Regions from separate parts of the Homo sapiens genome. Here region 2 is linked to region 1. Evidence: fine-mapped expression QTL. A gene starts in region 1. The other region holds a variant in brackets. All regions are shown on one strand. Distances are between the middles of the regions.

Region 1 (2,918 bases):
TTGATATCCTCTGCTATTCCATGCCCGGCTGCTCTACTTGTATATCACCTCTCCACCTGCAGTCCATCTTATATTCTGCTACGAGGCACATTTTATTTTGTGACACTTGGTTGGGTCTTCTTATCAACGAATGTCAGTGTCTTCTCTTTACAAACAGAAAAATGTTTCCCATTCTGTCACATAAGACCTTCTACAGGTTAACCTTAATATACCCTTCAACAACTTTCTTCAACCTGAAGGGATCACTCCTCTCCCACCGTCTCCTCTGCAGGTTCTAAGCACTCTATCCAACACGCCCTTTCTCTCCTCTGTCTGCATGCCACCTATCCTTCAAGCCCTTCTCCAATGCTATTCTCAGTGCAATCTTTCCCTAGTTTTTAATGCTTACTTCTTTCCTATTACATTTGCCTTTTATTTTGATTTATAGTTACGTTCATTCTTTACCTTCTTTGTTAGACCAAAAACTCTTCAATAGAAACTGGTCATATTTAGTAGATATATAACCTGGATAATGCTACTTTCCTGTCTCAGGTTTTTTTTTTTTTTTAACTGTAAAATATGTATCCTCTCAGAAAACACAACATGAAAGGTGTTGATTTTCCTAAGTGCATTCTATAAACAGGAACTTTCCCCCATCTTAGCTGTTAACTCATTGGTAAATATAAAGCAACCGGAAAGGTAAAAGGCATTCCATCAACACATACCCACTGCGAATGTGCAGGGAATAGGCTCTACGTGTAATCATCCTATCCTCTTGGGAAACCGTATTCGTGCGTGTAACAGAAAGCAAGCATAATTAAAAGACAGGGAATCAGGGTTCTGGCCCTTACCCCTGTATGACCTTCAGCAAACCGTTTCATATCTGAGCCTGGGTCTCGGCTTCCTCCTCTATAAGTTGGGATTAACTGCCTTGCCTTTCCCACAGGTTTGCCATGAAACTCCAAAGTAAGAGAAAGTCCTCTGGAAGAGGAAATGCACGGTCCCGACCTGGGGTGGTACTAAGATCCTAAGGCACAGAGCCCTGTGACCAAGACAGTTAAGGGAAGCAAGAACTTGCAATGACGGGGCGGGGGCAAGGGGGAACTTTTCTGCGTTCTCCGGCAGGACCCAGCGGTACAGCCCTGTGGGGTCCCAGCACAGCCGCGCCCGCCCGGCAGGTGCGCGGGCCCAGGCCCCGCGGGCGCGCTGCTCAGGCCGGGGAGAGCGAGCAGCCTTTCCCGGGGCCGGCGTCCGCAGCCGGCCGCTCTCCCCGCCGAGGTAGGCACAGCTCCGAAGCCCCCGCCCGGGTCGGTAGCCCCCTGCACCCGAAGGGCCCTCCCGGCTCCAGGCTGGGCCGGCCAGGGCAGGTGTCTGGAGGTGTCGCTCTCGCCTGAGGCGCAAACTTGGGTGAGGAGTCTGGCGTCCCTGCAGCTCCCCAGCCCGCCCGGTACCTACCCAGCGGCCGCCACCGCCGCCGCTCCTCGCCCGCCAGCGCGCCGGCCTCAGAGTGAAGGAAAGTGAAACAGAAACAGCACCCGCCGCGGCCTGGCCGGTCCCCGCGCCCCGTCTGCTCTCCCCCTGCAGGCGGGAGCGCGCCGGCTCTGTGGGGCCACTCGGCTCAGGCCCGACAGGGCGCGGCGGGCCTCGGGGCCCAGGTCCGGTGCCGCCTCCAAGGGCAACTCCACCCACTTCCAACCGGCGGCACCGCCCGCCCCGCCGCCCGGCCACGCCCCCGCCGCCCGGCCACGCCCACCACCACGCCCGGAGGCCGCGCCTGCCGCCTGCGCTGCTCGCAGGTGCAGCTGCCGCCCTGGCTCCCTGTGCTACACGTAGCTCTGGCCAAATATTATCTCGGTTCTTCTTATCCTCACCGTCCACCCCTTCGGTTGTTTACATCATAACAATGACTGGCATATTTTCCCTGGAGGGTTTAAAAGCAACGGTCAGTGATGAGACTGACGCACCCTGAGAATTTGTCTCTTCAGCTGCGTCTTCCCCAAGTCTGTCCCACCTGCGCCGAAGTGGGGACAAAGCCATCCCTTGATTTGCACCTTATCTGAAAATGACTGACAAACTTGTTACTGTAGTGTGGGTCCAGAGATCATGGTCGTTGACAACTATAAGCAAACGGGAACGTTGTGGAGGTTGAGGGTGGGGGGAGGGTGAGTGGTAAAGAAGCATTACTGTTTGCAACGTTCAAAACAAACAAAAACCCAGTACTCTTTCTAGTGGACTTTGAGATCTACAAGAGACCATTCACTGCAAAAACCTTCATTCAAAAATGTGTATTCTAGAAGCCAGAGCAGTGATGGCTTAAGAAAATGACAATAATAGAGGGTAGGGGAGACTGTCAATGCAAAATATTTGCTTTTTCTCCAACTGATAGGCGTTAACTTCTTACTAAAGTGATAGATGACTCTAAGTGGCAAACCAACAAACTTAACAACCGCTAGTCCAGCAGCCATACAAGTGTTCAAAGATCCATTTCAAATTTAAAATGCATCAAGCAGTAGACCAAGGCAGCTTTTTAAACTATCCATTTTATAATCAAACTTTGACATGTTTAAAAATTGCCATTTCTAATATCACAGCAGGAGCAATACATTTTCTGAAACAGCTTTAAATGACCACATTCGTATAGTCCTTTAAAGAACCATTTTCCAAAATCATACATGCCAATGTCCAAGCTGGGATCAACTTCATAAGTCGCAGCAATCACAATGAGTAAGAGAAAACAAGTGAGGTCAAATGACTTCATGGCAGTAGGATTACTCTTTATGCTTCATATCTTTCATTTCAGAGACTAAACAGAACAGTATGTGAAAAATCACACTACTTCTAGTGTGTTTAAAATATGCATTGGAGGATATTACTGTATATATACCACAATATATAAAAAAGACTTGGTATGTTCCTATTTTGTGTCTGAAACTATTTTA
Region 2 (2,918 bases), 76 kb after region 1:
GGCTTCTTTTGCTTAGCATGTTTTCAAGGGTTTTTCCATGTTGTCACATATATCAGTACTTCATTGCTTTTTATTGCTAAATAATATTTATCTGTACTGCTATATCACATATTTATGCATTCATTAATTGGTGGACATTTGGATTGTTTCCACTTTTGGTTATTATTAATAATGCTGTTATGAATATTTACATACATGTTTTTGTGTAGACATATGTTTTCTTTTCTCTTGGGTATACACTTATATCTAGGAGTGGAATTGCTAGATCATATGGTAACTCTTATGTTTAACCTTGAGGAACTGCCAAATTGTTATTCCAAAGTGATTGCACCATTTTACATTTTCACAGTCATGTATTAGGGTTGTAATTTCTCCACATTCTAGTCAACACTTGTTATTGTCTGTCTTTTTTATTAGAGTTATGCTAGTGGGCAAGAAGTGGTGTCTCATTGTGGTTTTGTTTTACATTCCCTTATAGCTAACGATGTTGAGCATCTTTTCAAGTGCTTATTGACCATTTATATATCTTCTTTGGAGAAATGTCTATCCTGATTTTTTGTGCATATTTAATTTGTTAATTATCTTTTAACTATTGAGTTGTAAGAGTTTTTGTTAGTATATTCTGGATACAAGCCTGTTATTAAATATATGATTTGCAAATATTTTCTCCCATTCTGTAGGCTGTCTTTTTACTTGCCTAGTGGTGTGTCTGAGAAAGCACAACAGTTTTTAATTTTGGTGAAATACAATTTTTAAAAATATTTTTGGTCAATTGTGCTTTCAGTTTCATATCTAAGAAAGTGTTGCATAATCTACAATCACAAAGATTTACCCCCATATTTTCATCCAAGAGTTGTAAAGTTTTAACTCTTACATTTTAGGTCTTTGGTCCATTTTGAGTTGACTTTTGTATATGGTGTTAAGCAGGGGTCCAATTCATTTTTTTTTCATGTGGCTATCTGGTTGTCCCGGAACCATTTGTTGAAAGATTGTTCTTTCTCCCATTGAATTGTCTTGGCACTCTTGTCAAAAATCAGTTCTCTAAATGTGAGGTTTATTTCTGGACTCTCAATTCGATTCCATTGATCTGTTATGTTTATCCTTATGCCTATACCACACTGTATTAATTACTGTGGTAAGTTTTCAAATTGGGAAGAATCTGTCGTGCTTTTGCACTTGGTTGTTCCTTATTTTTTTTCTGATAATTTTCGGATTCATCCCATAAAACTCAACTCAGACGTCTCCTTCTCTAAGAAGCTTTCTCTAACTCCCATTGGTAGAGTTAATCTTTTATTCCTTTGTGTGTCCTTATATATTTCTCTATTGTTGAATTCCATTATAATTTATTTTTATTGAAGTCAAAGGCTGTGTCTTACTCATTTTTACATTCCCAGTGTCTAGTGCAGTGTCTGATCTACAGTAAGTGCTCAATAAATGTCTACCAAAAAGCATAGAAGAGATAGAGGTTTTGTCTGCTCAACACCACAGTTTTATCTGTTAACATTGCTGGGGCTTTTTAGCATAAGTCCAAGAGTATTTGTTCATGTTGGTGCAACTTTCTGCCACTTTTCTCATCTAGCAATGGTTGGGCAATTGTTCACTTTGATGAATC[G/A]TTCCAGTTATTCTCAGCATGCTGCTGAACATTCTCTTCTTTTTATCAGGGCCTTTATCTAATAGGATGACAAACTGATGAAAGTAAAATTATGGGAATTACAAAGTAACAGGGTGGTGTGGTTTGCTTCATCACTTGCTTAAAGTTTGGTACACACTGTCCCTGTGCACCTCCCTTTTCATTGCTGCACAATAGTAACAATAACATACATTTACTGCATGCCAGGTACCATGCAGGCATTATCATGAATGCTTCTTATCCCGATCAAAGGAAAGTTTTTAAGATTGCTTTTTGTTTAGCAAAGAAAAATCTATGTGTGCCACCTCAAACTCGCAGCTTTTTGAGTCCAGCAGCAATTTTTCTTCTTTCTTGGCATCTACTATGGCTGCATATATATGTAGTAAGAACCCAAGTGAAATAGAAAAGCCAAGAAACATTTTTTCCTTTATCATTAAATAATTTAGAGTGAATAAAGGAGTCAAATACAAATAAAAGCCATTTGATTCAGCTCTGATGAGTTTTATAATGCTAACATTTACATATGGCAGTATACTTTCTAGGTGAGAAAATTGTTGCCTTTTAGGAGTTCTTGAAAGGTTTTGATAGTATACACTTTAAGAAATGGAAGATTGTCAAGACTTTCTCCATGGTTATATGTCACTTGAATGCTAAAAACCACATTTCAGTGTGGTAAGTTTTGTTCCTGGATTTGTCACTAGCTATAGGAACTTGAGCAAGTTGCTTCACCTATCCAAGTTTCCTTAGAACTTATAATTCTATAAGTGTTATATTGACAGATATACACAACAATTTTATGCATTCATAATTGGAGACAGTATATAGACTTACACTTTTATAAATATTATACATTTATAAAAAGTAACCTTTTCAAAACAGGAATAAGGATTTATGTATGTCAGAAACCTGAATCGTATTATAGCTATAGTTTCTTTTAAGAAGGTATTTTAAGAAAATTGGTATATTAGTTATCTATTGCTGCTTAGCGCTATTATCAAAAATGTATGGCTTAAAACAATGCACATTGATTATCTCACAGGTCCTGTGGATCAGGAGTTCAGGGGTAGCTTAGCTGCTTCAGGGTAGCAAAAGGATGCAATCAAGGTGTTGCCTGGGGCTGCTGTCTGACCTGAGGCTTGACTGGGGAGGGATCTGCTTCCAAGCTCATGTGGTTGTTGACCACATTCAGTTCCTGGCAGGCTGTTGCACTAAGGGCCTCAGTTTCTTGCTGGCTACTAATCAAAGGCTGTCCTCAGTTGTGTGCCACTTGGCCCTCTTTGTAGGCCAG

Alleles and levels. Positions count from the first base shown, and alleles are read on the strand shown. Sizes are in standard deviations (SD) of each study's normalised expression.
As copies of A replace G in region 2, the expression in unexposed skin of the gene that starts at base 1,608 in region 1 goes up (moderate effect, 0.52 SD a copy in GTEx).

Evidence for each region.
Region 2: its variant is fine-mapped to the expression of PCGF5 in unexposed skin (GTEx, PIP above 0.99). The same link has a PIP of 0.9 or more in sun-exposed skin.

What each region holds. Positions count from the first base shown.
Region 1 is chr10:91,219,353-91,222,270 of GRCh38, reverse strand. PCGF5 (polycomb group ring finger 5) reads right to left here and starts at 1,608. Exons shown (of 10, transcript NM_032373.5): 1 at 1,435-1,608. RefSeq lists silencers at 985-1,279, 969-1,428, 1,499-1,808 and an enhancer at 1,999-2,068.
Region 2 is chr10:91,143,840-91,146,757 of GRCh38, reverse strand. No RefSeq gene overlaps it. Among named protein-coding and RNA genes, the nearest start is that of PCGF5, 75 kb to the left of the region's middle. The variant G/A (reference allele first, on the strand shown) is at 1,613.